Regions from separate parts of the Homo sapiens genome. Here region 1 is linked to region 2. A link means that fine-mapping ties the variant in region 2 to the expression of a gene that starts in the linked region. Tissue or cell type: lung. Region 2 holds a variant in brackets; the other region holds the start of a gene. All regions are shown on one strand. Distances are between the middles of the regions.

What was found. PIP is the estimated chance that this variant, and not a neighbour inherited with it, causes the effect.
Region 1: WDR62 starts here. The variant in region 2 is fine-mapped to the expression of WDR62 in lung (TOPMed, PIP 0.97).

Annotation. Positions count from the first base shown.
Region 1 is chr19:36,051,750-36,059,850 of GRCh38, reverse strand. WDR62 (WD repeat domain 62) reads right to left here and starts at 4,954. Exons shown (of 32, transcript NM_001083961.2): 1 at 4,703-4,954; 2 at 980-1,071. The coding sequence starts at 4,879. It overlaps THAP8 (THAP domain containing 8), which reads left to right and starts at 5,566. Exons shown (of 4, transcript NM_152658.3): 1 at 5,566-5,716. The coding sequence starts at 5,634.
Region 2 is chr19:36,016,868-36,024,968 of GRCh38, reverse strand. It overlaps CLIP3 (CAP-Gly domain containing linker protein 3), which reads left to right. Exons shown (of 14, transcript NM_015526.3): 7 at 337-573; 8 at 5,663-5,798; 9 at 5,943-6,071; 10 at 6,978-7,121; 11 at 7,191-7,314; 12 at 7,519-7,583; 13 at 7,990-8,062. LOC101927572 (a long non-coding RNA gene) reads right to left here. Exons shown (of 4, transcript NR_170988.1): 2 at 8,009-8,101; 3 at 5,585-5,735. Among named protein-coding and RNA genes, the nearest start is that of ALKBH6, 6.7 kb to the right of the region's middle. The variant T/C (reference allele first, on the strand shown) is at 5,010.

The sequences.
Region 1 (8,101 bases), 35 kb before region 2:
CTCCTCCTCCCCCTCCTCCAGGTGTTTACGCTGAGAATTCTAGGGCACTTTAACATTGCTATGTTCTTAAATAGAAACCAACACTTCCTCTGAGGTAATGTCTGTCAGGCCCTAGGCTAATTAAGACCTTAAGCTGGCTATAATCCCAGCACTTTGGGAGTATGGGGCAGGAGGGATCACTTGAGCTCAGGAGTTTTAGACCAGCCTGGGCGACAGAGTGAGATCTCATCTCCACTAAAAAAAATTAGCTGGCTGTGGTGGCATGTGCCTGTAGTCCCAGCTACATGGGAGGTGAAGATGGGAGGATCGCTTGAGCACAGGAGGTTGGGGCTGTAGTGAGCTGTTATTCACACTATTGCATTCTAGCCTGGGCAACACAGCCAGACTCTGTCTCAAAAAAGCAAAACAAAACAAAAAGAGAGAAAGAGGGATGTAATTGTTTTAAATCCTCACAACTGCCAGGTCAGGTCACGACTATTTAGGCCCATTTATAGATAAGGAAACAAACCCAGAGAGGGGACGTCCTTAGCACAGTGCCAGGCTACATGAGTATTTATGGAATGAACAGCTGTAGCATCTTCTTCAGTCTTCTCAACTATGCAAGCAGAGGGGGTCACCAGCTCTGTTTTACAGAGGCAGAGGAAGAGGCTCAGAGAGCAGCATACATGGCAGAGCTGGGACACAAATCCAGGTTACCTGACACCACAGCGTGGACTTTAATCACCTGTCTTTCCCAGAATCGCTGTCACCTCCCCCCTGTAGTCATAATAAAGGCTTTCATTGCACTCACTACATGCCAGGAACTGTTCTAGACAGAGAGGGGGCTATGGAATCCTCTCCACAGCTCTCAGAGGCAGGCCCCATTCTCCACATTCTACAGGTGAAAAATATGAGGCTCAGAGCGATTTACGGATGGCTTCAGGTTCCAAGCTCCAAATTCCCTAGCAATGATTAGACGTCGAGGCCCTTATCTGCTTACCCTGCCAGGTAGGCCACATGGCCTGTGCCGGGGTCACAGGTTAGGCCACTGCTGTTCTGGGCTGTGATGCCAAGCACCTTCTCGAGTGACACCTGCAAAGAAAAAGCCCAAGTCAGAGGCACCCACCCTAGCCAGCACCACATGGTGCAGCCGCCTTGGCCACCCATTCAGGTCCTGCTACATTCAACACCCACACTGAGCTTCTGTGGCCACGCCATCCACCAGCAGCTAACACTTGTTCTCTCAACATTCCTTTGACAAATACAACGCTAGGTGAAAAGCACAGAGTGGTGAGGAAGAGACAAATCCCTGCCCTCGGGGGGCTCACATTCTACTGGTGATGGGTATGTAGAACATAGAAAAGGAGCAGAACAAATATGTGAAATAGATGCCAAGTAATGATGGGTGCAAGAGAGAAGAAAGCAGATAAGGAGGTTAGGAGCACAGGGGAAGGGGGCGAATGCCGCGGTGAGAAGGTGACCTGTGAATAAGTTTCTAAGTACTTTTTTTTGTTTGTTTTTGAGATGGAGTCTTGCTCTGTCACCCAGGCTGGAGTCAGTGGTGAGATCTTGGCTCATTGCAACCTCCGCCTTCCAGGTTCAAGCAATTCTCCTGCCTCAGCCTCCTGAGTAGCTAGGATTACAGGCACATGCCACCATGTCCGGCTAATTTTTGTATTTTTAGTAGAGATGGGGTTTCACCATGTTGGCCAGGCTGGCCTCGAACTCCTGACCTCAGGTGATACACCCGCCTCGGCCTCCCAAAGTGCTAGGATTACAGGCATGAGCCACTGTGCCCGGCCTCTTAGTACTTTTATATGTATAAAAGACTTGAATCCTCCCAACAAGCCACGAAGAAGGCTCTATTATCACCCCTGTTTTACAGGTAAGAAGTCTGAGGCCCAAGATCCTACATCTGCAAGTGGCAATGTTGATATACAAACCCAGGCAGTCTGGCTCCAAAGCTAGCACTTTGGGCTGTACAGGAGAGACACAGTAGTGACCAAAGGTAGACAGTTTCCCCACATCAGATTCACAGTCCAGAAATTTGAGCGGTTTCAACGAGTAAAAAACCACATGAACAGTAATATTTAAAATTTAAACAAGGCTGGGTGTGGTGGCTCAGTCAAGAGTTTGAGACCATCCTGGCCAAGATGGCGAAACCCTGTCTCTACTAAAAATACAAAAAAATTAGTCAGGTGTGGTGGCCCATGCCTATAATCCCAGGCACTCAGGAGGCTGAGGCAGTAAAATCGCTTGAACCCAGGAGGCGGAGGTTGCAGTGAGCTGAGATGGCACCATTGCACTCCATCCTGGGCGACAGAGTGAGACTCTGTCTCAAAAAAAAAAAGGAACAAAACAGTTGAGGAAACAGAGGCCAAGAGGGGTTACCCATCCAGGAAGGGGTAGTGCCAGGATTCCAACACAAACAACCAAGCCATGGCACTCATGTTGTCTTATCTGTCGATCAGCATTACTGGGCCCTGGTATGAATGGTCACTTTTAGACTAGGTCTTTGCAAGACAGATCAACTCTGTGCTGCCAAACAAAAAAAATAAATAAATATTACCCCAAATACACAGTCATAATATCAGTATTAGCTAACATGAATAGAGTACTTGCCATATGCCAGTGTTGTTCTAAGTGCCTAGGATATGTAACCTCATTGAATCCTCACAAATACCCTATGAGAGATTTCTACATCATTATTCTCATTTTACAGATAAGAAAACTGAGGCACAGATAAGTTCATAACTTGGCGGGGCACAGTAGCTCACGCCTGTAATCCTAGCACTTTGGGAGGCCGAGGCAGGCAGATCGCTTGAGCTCAGTAATTCAAGACCAGCCTGGCCAACACGGCGAGACCCTGTCTCTACCAGAAAACACAAAAAAATTAGTCAGGTATGGTGGCATGCGCCTGCAGTCCCAGCTACTCAGGAGGCTTGAGGCAGGAAGATCACCTGAGCCCAGGGAGGCTGAGACTGCAGTGAGCCGAGATCAACCCAGTGCACTACAGCCTGGATGACAGAGTAAGACCCCATCTCAAAAAAAAAAAAAAAGAAAAGAAAAAGCGAAGTTCATAACCTGCCAGGAAGAACAGGACTAAAGTTTAAGCTCAGGCTGCCTGGGTCCAACCATACCATCAGCAGCAGTCTGTGCTCTTAGCCACTTTGCTATAACGCCTCTCTGAATTTGCTATTGTTATATGTAGTTTAATAGCTCAAAGGGCACTTTCAGGAACATATAAGATAAAGGCTATGAAGTATAGGGTGCTGGGTGACAGATGAAGGTGGCTGTTTGCTTTAGAATGGGGTTCGAGAAGGCCTTTCAAGATAGCGACATTCAGGCTGAGACTTGAAGGATGGGAAGGAGCCAGACAGGCAGATTGCAGCAAAAAGCCCAGGCTGAGGACTCACCAATCACAAAGGCCAGGAGGCAGAAAAGAATATGGAGCCTCAGGAAAACCAAAAGCAGGCCAGTGTGACTGAACCTTGGTGACAGAGAGCACATGGGAGGTACAGCCAGAGCCCTGTAGCCAGGAGTGGGCGGTATAATCACAGTGCAGGAGAAAGTCATGGGGCAGGAACAAGCTCCACCAGCAGCTACCAGGTATCCTCCCTTTATCTGGACTCCGTGCCAAGAAGATCACAATTAAAATTTCATTTCCCTCCAATGCAATAGTATAATTTATTTATTTATTTATTTTGAGACAGAGTCTCACTCTGTCGCCCAGGCTGGAGTGCAGTGGCATGACCTCAGCTCACTGCAACCTCCGCCTCCCAGGTTCAAGCGATTTCTCCCGCCTCAGCCTCCTGAGTAGCTGGGATTACAGGCGCGCGCTAGCATGCCGGGCTAATTTTTCTACTTTTTGTAGAGACGGGTTTCACCATGTTGGCCAGGCTGGTCTTGAACTGATCTCAGGTGAACAGCCCACCTTGGCCTCCCAAAGTGCTGGGATTACAGACGTGAGCTACCGCGCCCTACCAGTAGTATGGTTCTTATCATCTCCATTTTATAAAAACAGATTTTGTGCCTACACAGCTGGAAAACAATTTTTTTAATTGCCGCTGTGCTAATGGAATTCCTTCTACCTACTGTGAAATCATTTCTTTCCATTTTTCTGTCTCAGGATTTAGGGAACTGTTCTGTACGCCCTCCTCCCCAGGCAGCACTGCAGAGATTTTATAAATAACTTCTCACGTCTTTCTCATAGTTTTGAGTGACAATATGGATTAAGAATCCCACCTTGGTGAGGAAAAAGGATAGAGATCGCAGAAGGTGAGAGAAGGCGGGGTAGAAGCGAGGAAGAGTTGGGGCAGGTAACACTCTGGACCGAACCCTCGAAGGGACCTTAATGACTCAGCGGGGGCCAGGGCAGTGAGGCTGCAGTGAGCTATGATCGTGACGTCTAAAGGCGATAGAACGGGGGTTAAAATATAGCAGGACTAGGCTGTGATTTACAGAAGCAAAATGCATTTCCACGGGTGGGAACCAGCGAGGAACCCCCGAATTGCTCCAACGCTGAGGGTGGAGCCGGGAAAGCAGCGAGGAGAAAGTGGGAGGGGCCGTGGCTAAAGGGGCGGGGGTTAGGGGACGAGGCATGGCAGGGAACAACCTGAGGGGACTGGCCGGGGGCTGATGTCGGGGCCACAGTTCTCAGGACGGGACTAGGGGAAACCTAGGAAGCCTGGAACTGGGGTAGACATGGCGAGCAGCTTCTCACCCGGTTCTGCACCGTCTCCTCGGAGGCCGTCGAGAGTCGCGTCCGCCGCCGTAGGCAGATTGGTGGGGCGGGGGGCGGGGAGGACTGGCCCCTCCGCGCCGGAACTCCCGCCATGACAGAGGGCAGCTTCTCCCCTGCATCGTTCCGCGCATAGCCTCCGGACCCTACGGCCGCCATCGTCACGCCGGAGGCGGGCGACCGTTACATCCCCTAACCGCCGCTGCCGCCACCGCCACGACCCACTGGAACAGCGAACAGCCGCGGGAAAGCCGGCGCCACCGCCTATTGGACGCGACGGGCCCGGCCTAGCCAATCGCAGGGATGCCGGGCGGCGCTTAGAACCAATGGGGGCGAAGAGGCGGAGCGAGTGCCTGGCGGGGCGGGGCCACAGCCAGTGTACTGGATGCCTGATTAAGCGTCATGGGGTCTTTCATCCAGACTGCGTTTTCATTATTCGCTGAAACATACAGGTTTTAATTTTTACGAGGCTAAGGCCACGGCCGCCTCACCTCGGTTTTTGCCGCCACCTAGAGGAACTATGTGCGCCCCAACGGTTGCCCGGATGTAGGCGTAGGGTGGAGCCGTAAGAGATTGACTAGCCAGTTGATTTGGTTGGCGCAGGCTCAGAAACGCCGTGACGCCGCCCTTCCCCCCAACACGTGATGAAAGTCGGGGTGACGAAGGGCCGGCTTTGCGCAGGTGCACAGTACTCGCTATGGCCCATTCGTCACGTGACGAGGGCGGGACTGTGGCACTGTGGAGGGGCGCCTAGTAGGCAGGCGCTCTCAGCTCTCTCCCCGGTACGTGACGAGACTCCACGGACGTCACGTGAGGCAGGCGGCGAGCGCGGGTGGGGCGGGGTTAGGCGGCGCTCCGCGAGAACCAAAGTGCAGCCGCTGACCCGGCAAAACTCAGCGGGGGCTGGATAGCCATGCCCAAGTACTGCAGGGCGCCGAACTGCTCCAACACTGCGGGCCGCCTGGGTGCAGACAACCGCCCTGTGAGCTTCTACAAGTGAGCGCAGCGCGGGGCGGGGCTTGAGGGAGGCGGGACCCTGAGAGGGGTGGGGCCCGAGCATTAGTGCTGCTGTGCGGGGCTTCTGGTCTTGCTTGAGGGTGTTAGGAAGTGGGGTTAAACCATGAGGAGATGGCCTTCCTGGCAGTGTCCATTGCACATACAAAGGTGCAGGCGTGGGAAACAGGAGTAGACGATTGACTACAGATAGCGAGCGAAGCGAGCCGAAGAGTGAAAGGGATGTAAGAAGTGAAGTCGGTGCAGGCTGTTAGAGAGCCTGCAGATGCCCACTTGCCCTCCCCACGCATTTGAGCCATCTGAAACTCAGAGCATCCGAAACTGAGCTTGCGATCGTGTCTCCCCAAAACCTTCCAGTCTGTCTTATCTTAGTAGCGTGCTTCATTCTTCTTGTTGCTTAGGTTTAAAAAATGTCATCCTTACCTCTTTCGTCATACTTGGGAAAGTCAGAATTAGCTTCGACTGTAAAAGATCTGTCTCCTTATTTATCTGGCTGACATAAGCCAGTTGGTGGAAGAATTACTAGGAAAAAACATTTCTTTGCTTTTTTTTTTTTTTTTTTTTGAGACAAGATCGCTTTGTCGCCCAGGCTGGAATGCAGTGGAACGATCACAGCTCACTGCAACCTCGACCTCCCGGGCTCAAGTGATCCTCCCACCTCACCCTACCAAGTAGCTGGGACCAGAGGCACGCGCCACCATGCCTGGATAATTTAAATTTTTTTTTTTTTTTTTTTTTTTTTTTTTTTTTGCCAGGCTTGGTGGCTCACGCCTGTAATCCCAGCACTTTGGGAGGCCGAGGCGGGCAGATCACCTGAGGTCAGGAGTTCGAGACCAGCCTGGCCAACATGGTGAAACCCCGTGTCTACTAAAAATACAAAAATTAGATGGGCGTGGTGGCTCATGCGTGTAATTCCAGCTACTCCGTGGGCTGAGGCAGGAGAATCGCATGAATCCAGAAGGCAGAGGTTGCAGTGAGCCAAGATGAGGCCACTGCAATCCAGCGTGGGCAACAAGAGTGAGACTCCGTCTCAAAAAAAAAAATTTTGTTTTTAAAGAGAGAGATGGGATCACCCTATGTTGTCCAGTCTAGTCTCAAACTCCTGGGCACAAGCAGTCCTCCTGCCTCGGCCTCCCAAAGTGCTTGGATTACAGGCGTGAGCCACTGCACCCAGCCAGGAAAAAATATTTCTCTTGGACATACTGCAGATGTAAAGTGGCAGAATTCCCATCCTTTGAGTGTCTACTGCTTTCTTAGTAGGAAACTTTGGTTGTCTAAAGTCAGAGATGATCACAAACTTTGCTGTTTGAAATCACATCAAGTAAGAATGAAACATCTCACTTTTGCTTGGAGGAGCTAAGTCACTTTGACACAGAAAAGCAGTCCCTATTTACAATCCAGGTTTGGAGCTTCAGATAAGGACACAATATTCTACATCTATGTAAACTTTATTGCATCTGAGAAGACAAACCCTGGGCCCACTTCACCATCCGGACCTGATATTGATCCCTTTACACACAGTTCTGATTTGCTTTGAGGCAATCTGAACACTGCTTAGTTTACATTTCACCTAAAAAATAACTCTGTTTGTTGAGACTCCCTCACAAAACAAAGGCCCATAGGGCCTATGGCAGTGGTCCCCAACCCTTATGGCACCAGGGACTGGTTTTGTGGAAGACAGTTTTTCCACGGATGGGATAGGGTTGGGGGAATGGTTTTGGGATGAAACGCTTCAGATCATCAGGCATTAGATTCTCATAAAAAGCGGGCAACTGGCCAGGCACAGTGGCTCATGCCTGTAATCCCAGCACTTTGGGAGGCCAAGGCGGGCAGATCACGAGGTCAGGAGATCGAGACCATCCTGGCCAACATGGCGAAACCTTGTCTCTACTAAAAATACAAAAATTAGCTAGGTGTGGTGGCACATGCCTGTAATCCCAGCTACTTGGGAGGCTGAGGCAGGAGGATCACTTGAACCCAGGAGGCAGAGGTTGCAGTGAGCCGAGATTGCGCCACTGCACTCCAGCCTGGCGACAGAGTGAGACTTCATCTAAAAAAAAAACCAAAAAACCCAAAAAACAAACAAACAAAAAAAAAATGGAGGGCAACCTAGATCTCTCACATGCACAGTTCAGAATAGGATTCACACTCTTGTGAGAATCTAATGCTGCTGCTGCTCTGACAGGAGGCGGAACTCAGGTGGTAATGCGAGCAGTGGGGAGTGGCTGTAAATACAGATGAAGCTTCTCTCACTCGCTCACCTGCCTGCCACTCACCTCCTGCTGTGTGGCCCTATTCCTAACAGGCCATAGACTGGTACCCGTCTGTAGCCTGGGAGTTGGGGACCCCTGGCCTATGGTATCTCTA
Region 2 (8,101 bases):
TCAGCCTCCCGAGTAGCTGGGATTACAGGCACACGCCACCACACCCGGCTAATTTTTGTATTTTTAGTACAGACGAGGTTTCACCATGTTGGCCAGGCTGGTCTTGAACTCCTGACCTCAAGCATCTGCCTGCCTCGGCCTCACAACGTACTGGGATTACAGGCGTGAGCCACCTTACCCCGCCTTGCCCTGACCCTTCTTATTCCCAGGTTGGCCCAGGATATGACCTAGTCTTACCCCTGCATCACCCAGACTGGTGGTCTCTAGGGGCAGGGCCTCCATGGGGGTGTGACCTGTGCCACTGAGTCCCTGCCTTCTTTTCCCATTGGCCCCCAGAATCGAAAAGGACAGGTGCCGGCGGAGGTGGTCCCAGATCCTATGGACATGTCCCTGGACAAGGCAGAGGCGGCACTGGTGGCCAAGGAGCTGCGGACGCTTCTGGAAGAGGCAGTGCCACTATCTTGCGCCCTCCCCAAGGTCACGCTACCCAACTATGACAACGTCCCAGGCAATCTCATGCTTAGCGCACTGGGCTTGCGCCTGGGAGACCGCGTGCTGCTGGATGGCCAGAAGGTCAGGGGCTGGGATGTGTGTTTGCATGGTGGGTGGGGGTGGGACTCAGCCCCTTAATCCCTTGGAGCTGCGTCCTCGGGCAGAGTGCAGTCCCTGCCCTTTGTCTACTTGCCGCCCTAACTATCCACCCAGTACTTGATTTTATCTCAGTTGTTCCGTGGGTGTCTCCTTTGAGCCTCACCCTGTGCTGAGCTCTCCATCCAGGGTGGGAAACAACCCGTCATCTGACAGTGACGGCCGAGAGTGGTCATGGCTGCCATGGGGAGGGGTGAGCAGAGTGATCTGCGCAGCTCTGTGCACCTGTGGCTCCCCCCGGGTCTTGTGGTCCTCGATCAGGCCCCTCTGCTCTCAGAGACAAGTCTGGCTAGGCAAGTCCAGGCCAGAGTGATTGGGGTGTGATGGGGAATGTACCCAAATTGCAGATGTGGAGGAGCAAGCCAGGGAAAGAAAGGGAGAAAGGAGTCTCAGCTTGGGGGAGCGGGTATCACAGCTGAGAGGGCAGAGAGAATCTTCATTTATCCAGGGACTCCAATTTCACTCATTTCCCGGTGTCCCTTGGGCTCCATACGGGACCCAGTCTGTCCTTAGGGAGGGAGGGCTGTGTCTGCCCCCGCCCTGCTGTCATGGGGCTCCACTTGTAATGAAGGGGAGACAGTCAAGAAAGTAAACCTATGGTTGAGATGATTTCTGGGCTGGGCACGGTAGTTCACACCTCTAATCCCGGCATTTTGGGAGGCCGAGGTGGGAGGATCACTTGAGGTCAGGAGTTGTTAGAGACCAGCCTGGGCAACATAGTGAGATCCTGCCTCTATTGAAAAAAAAAAAAAAAGGTAATTTCTGGTAGCAACAAGGGCTGTCAACACCATTACATGTTTGGATTTAGTAAATTGTCCCTGGCTGAATGCTGGAGTGGTTTTAGCTGGGGTGTTCTGAGAAGGCTTCTCTGAGGAGGTGATGTCCAAACTGAGATAGGAAAGAACTTCCTTTGCAAAGATAAGGAAGCAGAGGATGCAGTAGGTATGGAGACCCAGAGGCAGGAAGGGGCAGTGTTGACGAGGGGAGTTATGGGAAGGGCGGTGAGGTGGAGAGGTCAGCAAGGCTGGGTCACAGCAGACCTGTAGGCTACTGGAAGGAGTTTGAATTTTGTTTTTGTGTTTTTGAGACAGGGTCTTGCTGTCACCCAGGCCAGAGTGCAGTGGCACGATCTTGGCTCACAGCAACCTCCACCTCCCAGATTCAAGCTATTCTCATGTCTTAGCCTCCCACGTAGCTGGGATTACAAGTGTGTGCCAACAAGCCTGGGTTTATTTTTATTATTATGATTATTATTATTATTATTTTGAGATGGAGTCTTGCTCTGTCGCCTAGGCTGGAGTGCGGTGGCGCGATCTCAGCTCACTGCAAGCTCTGCCTCCTGGGTTCATGCCATTCTCCTGCCTCAGCCTCCCGAGTAGCTGGGACTACAGGTGCCCACCACCATGCCTGGCTAATTATTTGTATTTTTAGTAGAGAGAGGGTGTCACTGTGTTAGCCAGGATGGTCTTGATCTCCTGACCTCGTGATCCGCCCGCCTCAGCCTCCCAAAGTGCTGGGATTACAGGCGTGAGCCACCGCGCCTGGCCTTTTATTTTTATTTTTAGTAGCAACGGGTTTCACCATATTGGCCAGGCTGGTCTCAAACTCCTGCCCTCAAGCGATTCGCCCGCCTTGGCTCCCAAAGTGCTGGGATTACAGGCATAAGCCACTGCGCCCGGCCCCATCCAGAAAGCATTCTGCTGTGCACGATCTAATCATATCCATTGCACAATTCAGAAGGAAGGTTGGGTTGACTCTTCCCATTTTACAAGCCAGACTATAAGAGGCTCCAACAGGTGAAAACCTTTATCTGAAGACACGGAATACTAATCACTGCCCCTTAGAGAAGCAGCATAGCACAGCGTCATGAACTCAGGCTCAGGGACTTGCCCAGGTAAATCTCAGCTTTGCAACTTCCCACCTGTGGACCTGGAGCCAGTGATTCTGCCTCTTTGGGTGTCAATGTCTTCATCCGTAAATGGAGATAATAATAGTAACCACCTTAGGGGGCTGGTTGAGGTTTAAATTAATTAAAATGCGTAAGGCCATTAGAACAGAGTCCAGCGCATACTAAATGCTCTTTGTGTGTGCCAGGCACTGTTCTAGTCCCTCCACCAACACTCTTAAGATCAGCACTAATTGTCGGGGCGCGGTGCCTCACGCCTGTAATCCCAGCACTTTGGGAGGCAGAGGTGGGCGGATCACGAGGTCAGGAGATCGAGACCATCCTGGCTAACCCGGTGAAACCTCGTCTCTACAAAAAAAATACAAAAAATTAGCCAGGCATGGTGGCAGGTGCCTGTAGTCCCAGCTACTCAGGAGGCTGAGGCAGGAGAATGGCATGAACCCAGGAGGCGGAGCTTGCAGTGAGCCAAGATCATGCCACTGCACTCCAGCCTGGGCCAAAGTGTGAGACTCCGTCTCCAAAAAAAAATAAATAAATAAAAATAAAAAAAGATCAGCACTAATTAATTAGCCTATTATATGGACCAGGAACTGAGGCATGGAGAGGTGAATGAGCCTCCCATAATGATAATAACCACACTCACTAAAGTCTCACTGCAGCTAAGCAAGTTTACATGTGTTAAAAATGTTTCCGCCAAATGTGGTGGCTCATGCCTGTAATCCCAGCACTTTGGGAGGCTGAGGCAGAAGGATCGCTTGAGCCCAGGAATTCGAGACCAGCCTGGGCAACATAGTGAGACCTCATCTCTACTAAAAATGAAAAAATTAACCAGGCATGGTGGCACACACCTATAGTCCTAGCTACTTGGGAGGCTGAAGTGAGAGGATCGCTTGAGCCCAGGAGTTCAAGACCAGCCTGGGCAATCAACATGGTGAGACCTCATCTCTACTAATAATGAAAAAATTAATCAGGCATGGTGGCGCACACCTGTAGTCCTAGCTACTTGGGAGGCTGAAGTGAGAGGATCACTTGTGCCCAGGAGTTTGAGGCTGCACTGTGCCAGGGTCGTGCCACTGCACCCCTGGCATGGGCAACAAAGTGAGACCCTGTCTAAAAAAAAAAAAAGTTTCCGCCAGATGATCACTCCATGAGGTGGCTTACTATCTCTATTTTACAGATGAAACTGAGGCTCAATAAGTCCCCTGACCAAAGTTACAGCATGATAATAGCTAACAGGCTGAGCACAGTGGCTTCACACCTGTAATCCCAGCACTTTGGGAGGCCAAGATGGGGAGGATCGCTTGAGGCCAGGAGTTTGAAACTAACCTGGGCAACATAGGGATACTCCATTTCTATTTTTAACAAAAGTTTGTTGTTGTTGTTGTTGTTTTAATTAGCCAGGCTTTGGTGGCGTTCACCTGTAGTCCCAGCTACTCGGGAGACTGAGGAGGGAAGATTGCTTGAACCCAGGAGTTCAAGGTTACACTGAGCTATGATTGCACCACTGCACTCCAGCCTGGGCCACAGAGTGAGACCCTGTCTCTAAAATAGAAAAAAAATTTCAATAACGAATACTTGCTGATCCTTTACTTAATACCAAGCCCTGTTCTGAGGGCTTTAATTTCTCTATAACAGCCCTGTCCAACAGAGCTTTCTGTAATGGTGGAAATATTCTGTCTGTGCTGTCCAGTAAAGTAGCTACAAGCTACATGTGACAATTGAGCACTTGAAATATGGCTAGTGTGACTGGGGAAATGCATTTTTAATTTAGTTTAAATGTATTGATTTGTATTTTTATTTATTTATATTTTTTCTTGAGACAGAGTCTTGCTCTGTTGCTCAGGCTGGAGTGCAGTGGTGCTATCTGGGCTCACTGCAACCCTCCTGGGTTCAAGCAATTCTCCTGCCTCAGCCTCCCGAGTAGCTGGGATTACAGGCGTGCACCATCATGCCTGGTTAATTTTTGTATTTTTAGTAGAGATGGGGGTTTCACCATGTTGGCCAGGCTGGTCTTGAACTCCTGACCTCAGGTGATCCTCCCACCTCGGCCTCCCAGAGTGCTAGGATTATAGGTGTGAGCCACCGCGCCCGGACTAAATTTATTTATTTTTAAATTTAAAAATCATCTGAGTCTTCTTTCTAAGGTATGTATTTATTTATTTTTGAGACAGGGTCTTGCTTGTTGCCCAGGCTGGAGTGCAGTGGCACCATCATAGCTCACTGCACCCTTGAACTCCTGGGCTCAAGCGATCCTCCCACCTCAGCCTCCCAAGTAACTGGGACAACAGGCTTGAGCTACTGCACCTGGTTACCTTTTTTCTTTCTTTTATAGAGAATAGGGTCTTGCTGTCTTTGTTTTTTGGAACAGATTAAGATTAGAGGGTCTCGCCATTTTCACCCAGGCTGGTCTGAAACTCCTGGCCTCAAGTGATCCTCCAGCCTTGGCATCCCAAAG[T/C]GTTGGGATTATAGGCATGAGCCACCACACCCGGCCTTAGTTTAAATTTAAATTGTTGGCCAGGCATGGTGGCTCATGCCTGTGATCCCAGCACTTTGGGAGGCCGAGGCGGGTGGATCACCTGAGGTCAGGAATTCGAGACCAGCCTGGCCAACATGGCGAAGCCCCGTCTCTACTAAAAATACAAAAATTAGCCAGGCGTGGTGGCATGCACCTGTAGTCCCAGCTACTTGGGAGGCTGAGATGGGAGAATTGCTTGAACCCAGGAAGTGGAATTTGCAGTGAGCCGAGATCGTGCCACTGCACTCGAGCCTGGCAACAGAGTGAGACGCTGTCTCGAAAAAAAAAAAAATAAATAAAATAAATAAATAAATAAATTTACATTGTCCTATGTGGCTAGTCACTATTCACTATATGAGACAGGGCAACTCTTTAACAATCCTATAAGGTGAGTATAATTTCTGTTCCCATTTCACAGCAAAGGAAGTTGAGGCACACAGAGGTTAAGTCATGTAGCCAGCAAATGGTGATGTGTGACCTGGGGTTTGGGCCCAGGGCGGCCTCATGCAACCCACCTTGCTGCCCGTGTGTGGGCACTCCACGTTGGCCTCCCAGCATTCCTTCCTTAGCCATCGCCTCCCTTCTCTCCCCAGACGGGCACACTGCGGTTCTGTGGGACCACGGAGTTTGCCAGCGGCCAGTGGGTGGGCGTGGAGCTGGACGAACCTGAGGGCAAGAACGATGGCAGCGTTGGGGGCGTTCGGTACTTCATCTGCCCTCCCAAGCAGGGTTAGTCCGACCTCGGGCCCAAGAGGGGTGTGGCTGGGTGTCCACTCGGCAGTTCTGATGCTGCTGACTGGGAAATAGGGGATGGAGGATGGGGGCCGAGGGCAGAGGCTTGGACAACACCAGGCTCGGATTCTGTACCCCTAGGTCTCTTTGCCTCCGTGTCCAAGATCTCCAAGGCAGTGGACGCACCCCCCTCCTCTGTCACCTCCACACCCCGGACCCCCCGGATGGACTTCTCCCGTGTCACCGGCAAAGGCCGCAGGGAACACAAAGGTCAGAGAGGGGATCCCTGTGGTGGGAAGAGCCAGTTTGGGGATGTTGTGTGGGTAGCTCAGCTTCTGTGACTCAGTTTCTCCTCAGGCCCAAACTCCAGTTTTGGAAGACAAGCTCTGAGTTCCTGACTTCTGTGACTCAGTTTCCCCTTTGGCTCAGTACTGGCACCCCCTAGTTCTTAGAAGGACCTGTGGGTTCCCTGCCCTCTGTGACTTAGTTTCCTCTCAGACCCAAAGGTCTCCCCCAGTTTTAGGGAAGAATCCTTGGAGATCCTGTCTTTTGTCATTTGATCTACTTTTTTTTTTTTTTTTTTTTGAGTCAAGAGTCTCGCCTTGTTGCCCAGGCTGGAGCGTGGTGGCACGATCTTGGCTCACCGCAACCTCCGCCTCCCGGGTTCAAGCAATTCTCGTGCCTCAGCCTCCCGAGTAGCTGGGATTACAGGTGCCCACCACCACATCTGGCTAATGTTTGTATTTTTTTCTGTAGAGACAGGGTTTTGCCATGTTGGCCAGGCTGGTCTCAAACTCCTGACCTCAAGTGATCTGCCCGCCTCGGCCTCTCAAAATGTTGGGATTACAGGCCTGCGCCACTGCACATGGCCTGATTTACTCTCGGACCCAATTTTCCCTTCATTTTAAAAGGACAGTTTCTGGGTTCCTGACTTCTGACTCAGCTTTTCCTTATCCAACATATCCTCAGCTTTGAGAAAGGATTTTGGGGTTCTTCAGGTTCTCTGACTCAGTTTCCCTTCAGGCCTAAAGCCCCTTCCTAATTCTCTGGCATCTGGGATTCAGTTTCACTTCAAACGAAGAACAGGGTTTTCTACCTTGGGGTTTTCCAGGTGGCACGAGGTTCCCAAAGCTGGCCTCAGCCCCACTACCCACCTCCTACACCTTCTACCCTTAGGCAAGAAGAAGACCCCATCATCCCCATCTCTGGGCAGCTTGCAGCAGCGTGACGGGGCCAAGGCTGAGGTTGGAGACCAGGTCCTTGTCGCGGGCCAGAAGCAGGGGATCGTGCGCTTCTACGGGAAGACAGACTTTGCCCCAGGTGAGGATGGGGACTCTGGGCCGGGAGGCAGGCAGGGCCTTGAGAAATCCTGACACCCTCGTGCTGCAGGTTACTGGTATGGCATTGAGCTGGACCAGCCCACAGGCAAGCATGATGGCTCTGTCTTCGGTGTCCGGTACTTCACTTGCCCCCCGAGGCATGGGGTCTTCGCACCAGCATCCCGTATTCAGAGGTGAGCCCAAACTTCCAGCCCAAACCCAGGGCACCACCTGGAGCCCTGATCCCCCCTCAGATGGCCTCCTCCTCCCAGACCAGCAGGACAGTGTGGACACCCCCGAGCCCCCAGCCCTTTCCTCATAGATCCCTGGGGCCCAGCTCTCAGTCAGACCCTGGCCTTTTGTGGCTCTGACTTCTCCCCCTCCCCGTGTCTCCTCAGGATTGGCGGATCCACTGATTCCCCCGGGGACAGCGTTGGAGCCAAAAAAGTGCATCAAGTGACAAGTGAGTTAGGGGATGATATGTTGGGAGGAGTGTACGTTTGGGGATGGGAGGAAGGGTCATGGGTTCTCAGGTATATACTGGTGACAGTCTCTGGTATTTAATTGGGGACACAGGGTCCAGGAAAATGATGAGACAAGGTCCACAAAAAGATAGGTGCTAGAGGATATGAGGAAATTAGCAACAAGGCTCTTCGGGGACATGAGGTTGAGCAGATACTGGGGACAGGGATAGTCACTGGGGGACATGGTGGGAATTATGGACAAGAGGCCCAGATGGGTATTGGGAATGTAGGATCCAGGTGGGGACTGGAGACATGGGGAGGTATTAATGAGAAGGGGTCTGGATGGGTATTGAGGACACAGGTGGTCTGTCATCCCCTCACTTGACATCCTGCCCTCCTCTTCAGTGACGCAGCCCAAACGCACCTTCACCACAGTCCGGACCCCAAAGGACATTGCATCAGAGAACTCCATTTCCAGGTGTGTGGCCAACCCCTGTCCCCTCTCCTATGTGACATT